2 linked regions of the Homo sapiens genome follow. The protein of the gene in region 1 interacts with the protein of each later gene in a pairwise test. Each region holds a gene or a part of one and is shown on either strand. Other genes may lie near its edges.

Evidence for each region.
Region 2: the proteins of NCAM1 (region 1) and GRK2 interact in binary tests that used the Homo sapiens proteins (3 or more experiments, as listed by UniProt).

Annotation. Positions count from the first base shown.
Region 1 is NC_000011.10:113,230,142-113,237,518, forward strand, and holds part of NCAM1 (neural cell adhesion molecule 1 isoform 2 precursor), read left to right. Parts: intron 1-1,054; coding exon of another isoform or gene 1,055-1,132; intron 1,133-1,503; coding exon 1,504-1,654; intron 1,655-2,028; coding exon 2,029-2,213; intron 2,214-2,576; coding exon 2,577-2,673; intron 2,674-3,005; coding exon 3,006-3,176; intron 3,177-4,891; coding exon 4,892-5,023; intron 5,024-6,159; coding exon of another isoform or gene 6,160-6,174; intron 6,175-7,377.
Region 2 is NC_000011.10:67,269,369-67,276,745, forward strand, and holds part of GRK2 (beta-adrenergic receptor kinase 1), read left to right. Parts: intron 1-7,377. UniProt on the Homo sapiens protein: Specifically phosphorylates the agonist-occupied form of the beta-adrenergic and closely related receptors, probably inducing a desensitization of them. Key regulator of LPAR1 signaling.

The sequences.
Region 1 (7,377 bases):
TCAAAAATCCAGTATCTCCAACAAACTGGGTGTCACAAGGCTTTCTAGTGAAGTGTTCCACACCTGTTTGTTGTCATCTCTCATTAATGTGTGGCATCTCCTGGGATGCATCTTTCAACCAACCAGCATCCCAGATTTATAGGTCAAAGCAGAGGATCAGAGAACTCATCCCAGGGAGGAATGGCACTTGCAGAAATGGGCAGCCATGACTTTGCTTGACTCTTCTGTCTTCTTGCTAGAGTTGTTTTTTAGCTTCCAGACATGAAATGCATTGGGGCTCAGATGACCGGAATAGGCTAGATCTGTCAGTGATGGTCCAAGGGACTTTTCATTGGTAAATCTGCTGAGACTGCTGAACAAGGCTAGTGATGCCTTGCTTGTGAGCTTCCTAATCTGGCTGCTGTATGACATTGCAATTCTGGGCTTCAGGGCCCCAAACCAGCATATCCAAAGAACCTGAAGCCAATTGTTCTGTCATTCTTTAAAGACCCAACGCATGGGATGGCAGATGCCAGGTGCAGAATATAACCTCCTGTCCATCCCTACAGAACATCATATACTGGAGACAAGAGGGCCCAGCCTACCCAGAACAAGACCCTTTCTCCAGATCACTAACTTTCTTGAGGATCTGAAGTTAAGCCACATGCCTAGACTCTTCCTGGGCCAGCAACCATTTTACTTAGAATGTCAAGGGGAAATCCCCTTGGAAATACTCCAGTACCCATTGCCTAAGGACTATGTGCTTATTCTCTTTTTGACCAATCATTATAATTCCAGAGATTTAGGAAGCCCATTGCTGTATCAAGGACTATAAAATGGTGGTGGCCAAGGTGTCAAGGATCCCAGACCTGCCTAGGACTCTCTGTGCCATTGTCCCTGGAGAGAGAACCCAGTTACTCTCACTTCCAGTGCAGTGGCTCCTGATCTTTGAGTTGTTTGGCTTGTTTTTACATGTGATTATTTCACTTTTAAACATCCAGGAAAGAGGCATCTGCAGAAATAAGGATTTCTTTAATAATTTCTTATGTTGGGCACTTGGAATGTCCTGCCACAGGTACATGCACCATGGAACTGGCAAGTGGGCAGACAGAAAGGACAGGCTGGCAGTGCAGGTTTCCCAGGATCTCATGAGGTAGGGCTGCTGCTGCTGCTGCTGCAATATCTGCTGGCCGGAGGCTTTGCTTCCATTTTAGACATCCCAAACAAAGTCATCTTGGGGGACCTAGCCCCAAACCAATCTTGGTACTTAGATCAGGCTGCCTGACATAACTGAGTCTCATTTTCTGTTTCGGATACTCCCAGGTTCTCATGCTGCTTCCCAGTGCCTCCCCCATTAGATGGTACCTAAAGTAAGAAAGCCATTGACACAGAGAGGAGAGAGGAAGTGAGACGGGTCACAGACAAGTGATGGCCTAGTCTCCCAGCCCCCATCCTGCCATAGCACTGTTGCCCTTCACCCTGCCTTGGGCTCTGACATGCTCCCTTCCCCCCCACCCCCGGCAGACTCTGGATGGGCACATGGTGGTGCGTAGCCATGCCCGTGTGTCGTCGCTGACCCTGAAGAGCATCCAGTACACTGATGCCGGAGAGTACATCTGCACCGCCAGCAACACCATCGGCCAGGACTCCCAGTCCATGTACCTTGAAGTGCAATGTAAGGAATAAATGGGGAAGGACCTGGGGGAGGGAGGGGCAAGGCAGGGTCAGGATGAGAGAGGAAAACATCAGCAAGGACCTATGTGCACCCTGTGTGTTCTGCTTACGTTCCCTGCAGCTGACCCTGGGCTATTTCAGAGCTCTGTTCCCAAGCCACCCCCTACACACCATCTCCAGGCTTCTTACAAGCCTGCTGTGCCCTTGAGTCTTCTTCCCATGCTGTGCACAGGAATTCTAGAATGGCCCTGACCTCTACTATACCAGGCGCTGGCTCTGCTTTGGAGCACACCTGCCTTCCCAGTGCCAGGAGACAGGATATGGGGGCTTCATAATCATGGCAGTCATCCTGACAGTCATTGTTATTTATTGCAGATGCCCCAAAGCTACAGGGCCCTGTGGCTGTGTACACTTGGGAGGGGAACCAGGTGAACATCACCTGCGAGGTATTTGCCTATCCCAGTGCCACGATCTCATGGTTTCGGGATGGCCAGCTGCTGCCAAGCTCCAATTACAGCAATATCAAGATCTACAACACCCCCTCTGCCAGCTATCTGGAGGTGAGTCAGGATGGGGGTGGGACAGAGCAGAGAAAGCACAGTTTGACTCTAGGTGGGCTCCAAAATGCAGCTCAAGTCCTCTCTCCTGCTTCTCTGGCACATCCTGAGCAGGGAAGGCATGGGCTAGAGAAGACACTGAGCCTCTTTTCAGCTCCCCTTCGCCCACTCTACCAGTCCCCTCCCTGAATGTGCCTCTCCCATGAGCCCCTCTGCTATTCTTTTCTCTTGTTTAAGGCTGGGCTGGAGCTAATGATTTATACTTTACTAGTTCTGTTTTTTACTAACTTAATTCAGTAAATAAAGATCTGAGTCTGTGACCATCCCATAGGACACTTGTAACCCAATAGCTTCTTCCTTCTAAAGGTGACCCCAGACTCTGAGAATGATTTTGGGAACTACAACTGTACTGCAGTGAACCGCATTGGGCAGGAGTCCTTGGAATTCATCCTTGTTCAAGCAGGTGAGTGTCCCTTACTCACCTGAGAGCAGCTGCCACAACCCCCCACCTAACCCTGCCAGCCCAATTTGTGTACTTGAGTGATTCCAGGATATTGGGAAGAAGAAAGGGCCAGGGTCAGCAAAGCCAGAGAGTTGGGAAGCTGGGAGCCATTGGATCAGCGCATGGGGCATGTTGGGGGAGAAGCATCTGGTGAGATGGGCCAGGAGGACAGGATACAGTGACAGGATTCCCAAGAGTGAGCAGAAATGACAGAGATGTGCCTTGTGACTGAGAGTTAATGGTCTTGGGCCAAACTGGGCTCACCTGAGTCTCCATATGTGTCTTCCCCACAGACACCCCCTCTTCACCATCCATCGACCAGGTGGAGCCATACTCCAGCACAGCCCAGGTGCAGTTTGATGAACCAGAGGCCACAGGTGGGGTGCCCATCCTCAAATACAAAGCTGAGTGGAGAGCAGTTGGTGAAGAAGTATGGCATTCCAAGTGGTATGATGCCAAGGAAGGTGAGTTGGGCGAGTTGGTGTTTCCATTGGGATCATGAGTGCCTCAGTACTCAGATGTCCCCACCTGCCATCCTGGGCATGTTCCTACAGAATCAGGAACTGCACCTCCAGAATTAGGTCAAAGTCATATCTGCCTGTAGAGTTGTTGCCCCTATTGCCACCCCAACCCATGCTCTGTGCTTCAGAGCCTGGTTCTCATGACCCTTCCAGTATGGATGAAGGCATCTGTACCACATTCCAGGCAGGAACCTTGTGTAGGTTCTGAGCGCAGCCAGATGAGTCCAGCCCATAGGTTCTGAGCATGGCCAGATGAGTCTAATCCATCCTACTCTGCACGTTTGAGTTACCTGTGCTGCAGGTTCTCTGCCGACACCCGGCCAGTCCTGCTTGGATATCTGTACTCAGGGACTGGCTGTCTTGTAATTGTGATAGTAACCAAATAAGCACAGCCAGCAGGACAAGTCTGCCCTTAAATCAGTCCTGTGCTAGCTTTCCAAGCTAAAGATTAAAAGACTGACCCTTGGATTACTGCAGTGTGAAGATTCTGAGCCCAGATCATCTGAGGATAATGTGTGCTTATGTTGGACTCCCCTTTTTGGGTTTAATTGGAATAACTCAGTGAAGTATGTTTTGTTTCTGTACAAATTTTTAATCCTGGTCTCGTATGTGGTAATTCGAGTGGAATTGGAAGTAGGCTGGGATATCAGTATCACAGCCATTCAGAGACATAGTCCAGTGCAGTTTCACTCAGAATTAGTTCTGCCAGAAAGTTTCCATCACTTCTTCAGCTTCTCGGGGGAGCCAGGGGGCCGAGAGGAGCTGCTGGGTAATCAGGATTGGAGCCAGAAGAAAGCAATCACTTTGCCTTCCTAACTTCCCTCTGAAATCTCATACCAATTTTGTGGCAGGTTGATCTCATGTCACTATCTGTCCACCCGACTTTTTTTTTTTTTTAAAGATCAATTCTAGTTATTTTTATTATAAAATATACATAACATACATTTTACGTTCCATCATTTTTAAGTGTAAAATTCAGTGGCATTAAGTTGTAACCATCACCACCATCCATCTCCAGAACTTTTTATCATCCCAAACTGAAACTCTGTACCCATTAAACACTAGCTCTTCATTCACTACCTCCTCCCAGCCCCTGGCAACCACCATGCTTTCTGTCTCTATGTAGTTGGCTATTCTAAGTACCTCACATAAGTGGACTCATATGGCATTTGTCCTTTTGTGGCTAGCTTATTTTATTTCACTTAGCATAATATCTTCAAGGTTCATCCATGTTGTAGCATGTGTCAGAATTTCCTTCCTGTTTAAGGTGGAATAACATTCCATTGTATGTCTATGCCACATTTCATGTATCCATTCATCAGTCAGTGGTCATTTGGGTTGCCTTTCGGCTATTGTGAATGATGCTGCTGTGAACATGGGTAGCCCAGGTATCTGTATCTGTTTGGTCTGCCATCTGTATCTGTCATTTGGGTCTGCCTTTCGGCTATTGTGAATGATACTGCTGTGAACATGGACAGCCAGGTATCTGTATCTGTTTGGTCCCGACTTTCAATTCTATGCATATGCCCAGAAATAGAATTGCTGGACCAAATGATAAATCTACAGTTAATTTTTTCAGGACCCTCCCTACTGTTTTTCAGAGCGGCTGCACCATTTTAACAATAGACTCTTTTGTCATCCTTCCCATATTATAACAGCCAGCATGGAGGGCATCGTCACCATCGTGGGCCTGAAGCCCGAAACAACGTACGCCGTAAGGCTGGCGGCGCTCAATGGCAAAGGGCTGGGTGAGATCAGCGCGGCCTCCGAGTTCAAGACGCAGCCAGTCCGTAAGTAAAGCCAGCTGCCCCCCTTTTCCCAGCCCACCTTCTTCTCCCTGGGGGCAGTGGGGAACCCTGAGCTGGCCCATGTCATTGTTCAGACCACAGCTTTTTGTCTTTCAGATCCCTCTGCTCCTGGAGGCCCCACCTCCTAGTTCTCTGGTTCTCAGTGACAGCTAACACACAGTCCCTTCATTCTCTCTTTCTCCAAGGGGTTGGGGACACTGTCCTAGTAGCCGGTCCAGCTTGTTAGAATAACAGTGAAGGGGAAGGCACCAACACATTATTAAAGGAAGTGGGGAGAAAACCAGGAGTGAGTTGTCAAAGGATCTGGGAAAGTTGCTTTTCGACAGGCCACAGAAGCCCTAAGCACCCTGTGACTTGCAGGAAGAGGGTAAAGATGGTGACAGTTCACATAATGCATTGCGGGATCTTTGATGCAGCAGAGATATTAAGTCAGAGACAAATGGAAACTGCTATAGAATATGTGAGCAGCAGCAGAAACCCAGCAAAGCCAAGGGGAAGAGGTAGCCCTGGCCTTGGCCTTTTCTGCTCCTCTCCCTCCCATAGCAAGAGCATTCCTCACGGCCTCTTTCAAGAGAATTGCTTCCCCCTGATTCCACTCAGGGATGTATCTCTAGGTTTTCCTCGGCCATTCCCTCTTTCTTTTAACTACGCCTATCCCACTTTGCCCTCCCTTCCCACCAGCAGCCAGGCTGTGGGCAAGCCCTGCTCCTGTCATACCCCTTTGCAGACAGAGATACTACCCTGGGAAGCTCCTGAGTCCACCCAGCTAAAGAAGATACCGTAGAACTAAATTTCTGAGTGTTCACAGAGTTCCCTGGGCTCTCTGACCCCTGGATTTAAAATGCACCTGGGAGAATCCTTTGCTTCCTTCTTTTTGAAGCCAGGGGCCTGCAAAGGGACCCACTGCCCTTACCTCTTCCCAGAAATAGGAAAGCCTGTCTCATCTTCCTTCTACAGGAGTGGCTTCTTTCTCTGGATTTGAAGTAATTTGATAATTTGAGTTTCCAGCTCCATGTGCTCTGCGGATTCTATTCATTTCTTTTACATCTTATTTTTTTTTTCTTGGGTCTGTCTCTTGTTTTTTCTTTTCGTCTGTGTTCCATCCATGGGAAATGCAGATAGCCCTCCTCCACGTAAGTGCCTCTTCATACCTCATTACCTGTTTCCATAGCGTTAACATCTGCTAGTTCTAGTTCGTAATTTAGTTCTGGTCCCTTTTTTGTCCCCTAGAGGCTGAAGTAGATGATATTGTCTGGGCCCTAACCACACTGACCTTAGTCTAGTTGTGCTGTTGTTAACGTCTGTAGGTTACTCCAAGAGGCTAACACTCTTCCTGTTTTAGAGCATGCAACTTCTGTGTCTTTGGAAATTGTGCTTATTTATTAATTTTTGTGTGTGATGATTACCCCACGGCAAAGATGGTGTTTGCTGAGCCAAGCATGGTGGAAGTCTGCAGATGGGCCCTGAATAACACGCTATAGCCCCGCCTCACCTTCAGCCAGGATGCCGGGAAAGTGACCACAGCCCCACCAGGCCACTATTCAAAACACCTTGAAAGGAAAAAGAACCTGAAAGGATTTTCATATTTGCTTTTAGGAGATAAAGGAATTGAGCTCAGTTGCTTCCTTGCTTCTTGTCTGTCAGCTTGGTAGCTGGAGGGGAATAGGAGGACTGGCCAGGGAGGCTCCTGCAGCAGCTGCCATAGTCAAAACGTAGCATGAACTTTGGTTCCGAGCCATGGGCATGTCCCACAGGTAGCTGTTGCAGAGTTAAATCTCTAGTTCCGGTCAGCTCTGTTCTTTAGCATGTAGTTACTTGCAGTGTGCATCTCCTCGTTTGGGGAAGACTAACCAGCTAATGTAGGAACTCTTCTGCCATGCATGCTAGGGAAGGGGAGATTCCCCACTGGAAGGACACCCTTCATCATGTAAGCTGTACATAGAGGACACAGGGAACAAGGGTAACAGAGAGATGAACTGTGGTTTGACCCCATTAGCCTGCAGAAATGCCCCTAAACTTCCCTTCTCCTGAGATTTGGTTCTTCCTAGGCTGAACCAGAATAGCGGAGGGAGGTGTTACCCAGGCAGACACAGAAAAAAAGGTATTCAGGAAGCTGTACAGTCTTTTCATAAAAAGGCTCCCAGCTCCTGAAAGGTACCCAAGGAAGCTTATCTTTTTAACATTATTCAGAAATATTGCAGCAACAGCAAAAACTAAGTAGCTACATGTAGGTATTCTGAGATTTTGAGCAAGTGCCAAATGTCCTACCTCAGCAGAGTTGGTGCCGGGATGAACCAGCTCTCGAAGGCATCAGAGTTGGGGGATGGAGCCTTCAG
Region 2 (7,377 bases), about 46 Mb from region 1:
CCTCGTCACAGAAGAAAGCTGGAATGGGGCCTCGGGTTTCTGGACCACACAGGCCAGTGCTGTTTCTTTGCTGTGCTTTATCCCCTCCACCCACCCCTGCACACCACTGTTCTCGCCTCTGTCCACATTTTGCGGTGTGGGCTGACTGGCACCCCTTGTCTGGGGCCATCGGCTGTCACAGTTCACAAGGCTCAGCCCTCTTCCCGTTGGCTGGGATGGAGAACTGAGCTGCCGTGGCAAAGCTACTGCACCGAGGGGCAGCCCCACTCCAGGGTCCCGTCAGATGCAGGAGCCTGTCTTCCCCATACCCACAAGGTCAAGGTCAGAGTCAGGGAGAGGGGCTGTGGCTTGTCCCAGTGACAGGTTGCCACTGGGAATTGTTCATACCTTGAGGTGGCCCACCTTGGCAGCCCCTCCATGGCTGGTGCCTGGGGATGTGTCTTGGCCAAGAACTGGGGCTGGCATCACAGCTCTGAGTTCCAAAGGCTAGGGAATGGGAGTGGTTAGGCACAGTGCCACACTGAGTTGGCACAGGGGCCTCCCCTTCTGTCACCCTATAGAATCCAAGGAAACAGTCCCTTTCCCCGACCTTCTTGTAGAAGGAGGTAGCGTAAGGCAGCATTGTGTATCTGGAAGATGGGAGGTCTGGCTTCTCCCTCTACCACCAGCTCACATGGGACCCAGGCGAGTCCCTTAGCCCGACTGGACCTGCCTCAGTTTCCACCTCTGTAAAACGAGGCGGCTGCCCCTTCACTCTCAGGGTCTGTGGTCTGGGCCTTGCCCTGAAGGAACTGCTGTCTCCCTTTCCCAGCAGCCAGCAGTCTTGTAATTATCATCATTTGCTTAATATGACCACTGAGGCCTCGTGTAATTAATCTCTGGGCTCCTAGCTGAGGAGCCCTGCCTGGGCGCTCCCAGGAGGTTCCTCTGCCCTCCCCGGTGACAGTGGCAGCCCCAGCAGCAGATTGTCGGAGCTGGGTGCCTCTTGCAGCCTCCCGATTTCTTGGCTGTTTCCTGGTCCCTCCCCCACCGAGAGTTTCCTCCTTCCTGCCCCTTTCTGGCTTCCCTGTCTCCCCAGACCCTGCCCCTGTTCCTCCGCTGCCTCGTTCCTGTTAACTCTTCGCAGCCAGAACTTCCTGCCCTCGATTTGTGGGGGAAGGGGTGCAGCGGGAAGCTCTCTCCCTCCCTCCTTCCTTCACTCCTGCAGCACCAGCTGAAACCCTGCTGCTTCCAGCCTTTGTCCCTTACCCAGAACTTTCCACTTCAGTGGCAGCGTTCTCCCAACTCCTTTCCCTGCAAACAAGATGATCTTTCCTGCAGTCACTCCCTCTGGGCCTTTGAAGCACCGCCGTTCCCCAGGAATGGGTCTCTGGGATGTCTTTCCCGTCTGTTTTCCTTTCCAGAGCATGCGTTTCACTTATTTGCCATTAAGTCGCCCGCCTGCCGTTACCTGGGTAAATGGATTTGAAGGGAGTGTGAGCAATGCAGGTTGGAATCTGTGCAGGGGAACCTGGGCTGTTAACCCAGAATGAGGTGTCCTATTAATGCACAATCAATTCCTAGTAGTAAGTTCCCGGTGACGTCAGGTACAGGAGCGCTCCGCAGCCAGTGTTTCCTCCCCGTGCCTAGGTTGCACCCAGGTGGGCTTGGCAGAGGGACTGAGTGCTCAGGCTGGTGGGTTTGGGCTCCACGCGCTTGGCTGTTGCTTTCAGGGTATGCTCTTGCCTCGGAACACACAGTGGGAACCAAAAGCACAGTGTAGCCCTTGAGGATGCACAGCCTCCCTCACACCTGCCCCTTCTTCCTGGGCCCCTTCCCTACTCCCCGCCGGCTCCCCATGGGTCAGTTTCCACTGCTGGATGGAGCTATATTCACGTTATTTCTACTCTGCTGCAACTGAGATACTAAAAATGAGGTGTTTGACTGCAGCTTTTTTCTAAAACAGTAATATCCCTTCTCTGCTTTGCTGTTTACTGCAAAAGGACGCGTCTATGCTGGCAGAAGTGGGTTTTCTGGTATTAACATGTTGGCAGCTCTGTTCCCAGGTGGGGGCAATTTTCTGACTCTAGAGCCATTTCGTGTTTGGGATGGGGGATAACCCCCTCCTGGAAACCACAGGGCATGGAATTCTGGAAGTTTGTTCTTGGTGCATTCTAGCGTAATGCAGATTACGGTCTCCATGTCAGCAGTAAATTGCAGGGTGTGGGTGCTCATGTCATATTTGTGAAGAAGCCGTGACATTTGACAAGGCCGCCAGAGTGCCTCTTCCTGAGCATCCCCGCAAGGGAGCTGCTTTGTGGCCGACACGACGTTCCGGAGCCCAGGCTGCTGCAGACCCTGGCTGTGTGTGCGGGGCCAGCTGGCTTTTTCTCTCCCCTGCTCAGGGCTTACCTTGGACCTGCCGGTTTGGGCTGGCCTTTCCTATTTGATCTGTGGCCCCGTCCTTGTTCGCCCCAGGGAGAGTCATTGAGAAACATTAAGAAGCCCCAGGGGACTTCCTTCTGCTGCTGGCACCTTGGTGTCTGGTTTCCTGGAAATGCCACAGGGAGCACCTCGGCCACAGCCACAGGCCCTGCTGCACTGGTTGGTGAATGCTCGCTCATCTCCCAGGGGACGGTTCCCAGAGTGGCCGCACCAGACCTGCCAGGCCTGTAGCCTTCATGCCAGCTTGCACCGTCCTGGCGTGGCAAAGCTTTAGCATCACTGTCACATGAGGGGCACAGGAAGCATGGCCCCTGGCTGCCAGCTGCCAGCCAAGGCTGCCTCCCATCCTGGGTTCCAGGGAAGGGGGCTGCTCGTCTCCTACAGCTCCTGGTCAGGGACGGGAGGGCAGCCAGGCCAGAGGCTGGGCACAAGTCAGGGTCCTCTGAGCCCTGCACCCAGCTCTTCCACAGAGGTCAAGGGGGGGATGGAGGGTGCTCTAGTGGAGGCCGTTTCTCAGGGAGCCTTTGGACATTTTCTTTGCCACGAACTCATTGTGGGCCTCGGAGCACGTGGCCCAGCCAGCTTCCTTGCCATCAGCAAGAGTGTGTTTGTCTCTGACTTGTCACCCCCTCCTGTCCACACAGCTACAGCCTCTGACCCCGAGCAGGAGACACCTAAGAGAGCCCAGGCCACAGAGGATGGCCTGGACTTTGCATTTCTTCTGAACCATGAGGTGCCAGAAGGGACCGGAAGTGCTCCCTCAGCACCCACTCCTTCCCTGTCACCCAGTGCTCAGTGCTGCAGCTGCTCACTGTCTTGGGCTGAGCCTGCTCCGGGAGCAGTAGGAGCTGGTGCAGGCCGCTGTAACTGCAGGGGTGCCAAGGTGGGACTGACTGCTCCTTCCCAAAGCTGGGTGGGCACCAAGTACCTCTGTGCCAAGGAGCCCTTGATACTTTGGCAGGGCAAGCCACGGGCTCTACCCACTGGGCCCGCAGTAGAGCAATGCAGTGCCTGAAGCTGGTCTGTGAGCAGAGGAGTCCCACCCTGCTCGGCTCAGCCCTGGCCACAGGCCCCATCCTCCAAGGCCCCATCCTCTCCGAGGACACGGCAAATGTGGAGCAGAGGCTTGAGCAAGACCAGTTACTGTGTGATTCTAGCATGGACTGTCGGTGAGCCGTGGGGCACTGAGAAATGGGGCTCTGGCGGCTCTCTCCCATGGCCCAGCAGGCGGGGCACGGCGGGCAGCATGGCCAGCCTGGCATATTAGAAGCCCTCCTTCTGCCGTGTCCACCCAGGCTTTGTAAATGGCCAGTGTGACGGTGGCGATTCAGCATCTCATTGACATCCTCATTTTACAGCTGGGGAAACTGGACATTTCAAGTTTGTGACCAGGTGGTGAGGGCCACTTGGAACCCAGGCACCCGTCCAACGGCCAGAGCAAAGGCAACTCTGAGGCCCTTGCCCAAAGGTGTTGGGAACCTTAGCGTCCTTCCATCTGGGACTGTTGAGGCCGCTTGGTTCTCCTGATGCTCCAGAGTAGATCTTGGGAGCCACGTTCCCCCGGATCTCAGGGTTGCTGACCTGGGTGGGGGACAGGGACACGCTCTGGGCTCACTGCCACTCCAGACTCTGCCAGTATCAGGGAGCAGTGTTGGAGACAAGGTGACCCAGTCCAGGAGGCTGTCCCACCCCTGTGCTCGCCCGTGCTTGCCACCCTGGCAGGAGCTGCCCCCAGTGGCAAGTTCTTCCAACCTGCCAGTTCCCTTGGCGGCCAGACCCATGGGAATAGACAGGAAACCCTAAAATTGCCACTTTGGGGGCCTTCCATTCAAGGACTCTGCTCAGGCCTGACCTCGTGTTTGGTTTCTTGCTTGGGGGGAGGGGGGTTGTTTATTTTATTTAAAAAACATTTTTTTCTTTTTAAGGAAGAAAGTGGAGTGCTGTGGGCTGGGAAGAATGTGGTGGCCATGCCCAGGCGTGGCTGCTGAGGGGAGAGATGGCCTCAGAGCCCCGGGTCCTGCTTCCTGCTGTTCCCAGGCCGGGGCTGACAGCAGAGCCCCTGGGAAGGAGAAAGGGCCTGCCCGGCAGGTTCCCCTGGCTGTCGCAGGCAGGGAACCAAGCATGCTTCCCCCTTGGAGACTTTGTGTGTCCAGTTGAAAAGTGGCAGTGGCTACTCCCTGGCTCCTAGGTGGCCATTCCCTCTGCCAAACTGGCACCTTTTTTTTTTTTTTTTTTTTTGAGACAGAGTCTCACTCTGTCACCCAGGCTGGAGTGCAGTGGCACGATTTTGGCTCACTGCAACCTCTGTCTCCAGGGTTCAAGCGATTCTTCTGCCTCAGTCTCCTGAGTAGCTGGGACTACAGGCGCACGCCACCATGCTGGGCTAATTTTTGTATTTTCAGTAGAGACGGGGTTTCACCATGTTGGTCAGGCTGGTCTTAAACTCCTGACCTCATGATTCGCCCGCCTCGGCCTCCCAAAGTGCTGGGATTACAGGCGTGAGCCACCGCGTCCCGCCAAGCTGGCACCATTTTTGCAGGCTCCTAAGAAGCAAGTCTGGGGCTCAGTGGGGCTTACTGCTGAAGCCCGGTGGCCCCCATTCCTGGGACAATGCCCGGCTCCTGGTGGGTGACCCCTACAGGCTGGGATTGCTTTGCCTGTCATCTGCATCTGCCTGTCGCTACCTTCCGCTTGACCAGCACCTTTTTTTTTTTTTTTTTTTTTTTTTTTGCTTTTTTTCATCCCCTTCTGTGGACCAAAATGTCCTGGCCCACCTCCCAGGTGAGATGCAGGCCCCTGACCTTGGGGTTTTCTCCACGTTCCAGTCTCCCAGTGCACAGCCTGTGCCCTGAGGGTCGCCCAGGGCCCAGGCCTCCTGTCTGCAGGTGCCAAGGGCAGGGACCGTGTCTTTCTCAATTCAAGAGATTTTTATGAAGCCCTTGCTGTGTGTGAAACACCACAATCTCCGTCCACCGTTTCCTGTGTCCCTGGGAGTCCCACATGCCGGGAAACATGTCCTTGACGGTGGCTGGTGGACATGAGCTGGCGTGTGGCCCGAAGGGGCGGGTGTGCTGGTGTGGACGCGGGGCCCATCCTCGGAGCTCCTGTCAGTTCTCAGAGGGCATCCTCACTCCCCGGTGGGGGGCATGGGCCCCCCTCTTCCCATCCAGGCAGGGTCTGTTCCAAAGCAGTCATAGGATGCGAACTCAGGGTCACCTAGGCCCATCCTTGTCTTCAGTGCCCTGCTTCCTGCTGGAGACAACTTTGGAAGAGGCCGCGGCCCCTCCCAGCCTCTGAGGGTGGGGAGCAGGCCAGGGGGTCGCGGCCTTGGAACCGTGCTCATGGCAGCCCTGCTGTGCTCGTGCTATCTCGCTCGGCCTTTCCTGAGGAAGGCTGGAACCAAGTGAGATCAGGGGCCGAGGCCCGGGAGTCCACTGCAGCCCTTCCTGGAAGGACAGTGCCCAGTGGAAGCGGATAAGAGCCCCCTCTCGAGGCCGAGGTCAGAGGCCAGGCAGGGTCCACAGGCCAGGTCCGCACTGTCTGGAGCTGCTCTCCGCAGACGGCTCTTCTGGCTGAAGCTGCCATTCTTCCAGACCCTCGGGCCCAAAGCCTGGAAGCCCTCACGGGGCTGGCCTCATAACCCTTCTCCCGGTCCCCGACAGCCTGAGCCTTCTCCCACCCACCCCCTTCCCCTTCTTCCTGCCCAAGTGTTGCCTCTGCCTGGGCTTCCTCCGCGTGGCGCCTCCAGTGGAGTCGGGCCACCCACCGCCCTGGACCAAGCCTCCTGAGTCCTGCTCTCCTGCCCACTCCTTGGCTGTGAAGCCCCCTGGTTTGCAAGGCCCTGCCCTCCGCCTCACCATGGCCTTTGTGTGCCCTCTCTCCTGCCCCATTGGCCCCTTGCTCATCCCTGGACATACTGTCCCCTGCCTGTTCCCACGTCTACCGACCCCCCTGGCTTCGCCAGCTGCCGAGATCCCACTTGCACTCCAGGAACCCAGTGGAGTTCCACCTTCTCCACACAGGCTTTCCAGACCCAGAGGCCTCCTCTCCTTCCCAAGGCTTCTGCACACGCTGTCTGGTATCACAGGCTCAGAACCATGCCCTGGGCAGGGCTGTTTGGAGCAGGGGGTGGCTTTGGCATGAGGTACACAGTGCCTCAGGGGTAGATGTGCAGCGGGTCCTCGTGACCACAGCCTGGGTGGCCAGTCCGACCAGCCCTGGGCTGGGCTCCTAGGGGCAGGCAGGGCCGGGGTGCAGAAAGGCAGGGGCCATGGCAAGCACAGAGAACCTGGACTTGCGGATCCAAATCTCCACCAGCTGCAGTCATTTCACGGGAGGCCTGCTGGTGGCCCCATAGACCTGCAGGGCCATGTGAGCGTGACATGGGCTCAGGTGTGTTGTCCCTTCAGGCCCCCAGCCTTGCAATGCCCTCAGCATGGCAGCTACACGTTACCCCAGGAGCCCAGACTAGTGAGGACCAGATGCAGGCCTCAGCTGGCTGTTGGGACAGACCGGCAGGGCTGGGCTTGAGGTGGGCCAGGAGAGGGCAGGAGGGGACAGTAAGGTGGTATTTGAGGCCGGGAGTGTAGCCTGGTGTGGCGCTCCCAGACAGCACTCAGTGTGGGGTGAGATAAACAGGGTGGGGGATGTCGGGTTGGGTTTTGAGGGTCACAATGGCCAGGCCCTCCCCTATGGCCATACCAAGCAACCCAGGGCAGGGGTCACATTTTATATCCAAGTACTAGGGACACACGAACCAAGGCATGGCCTTTTCTTACAATTTAAAAAATTGAGATGCAATTCATATAAAATTCATCATTTTATTATACAATGTAGTGTTTTTTAGTACATTGACCGTGTTGTGCAACCCTTACCCCAAAAAGAAACCCCGTCCCCACCGCAGTCACTCCTCTCCCTCTCTCCAGCCCCCGGCAGCCACGGATCTGCGTTCTG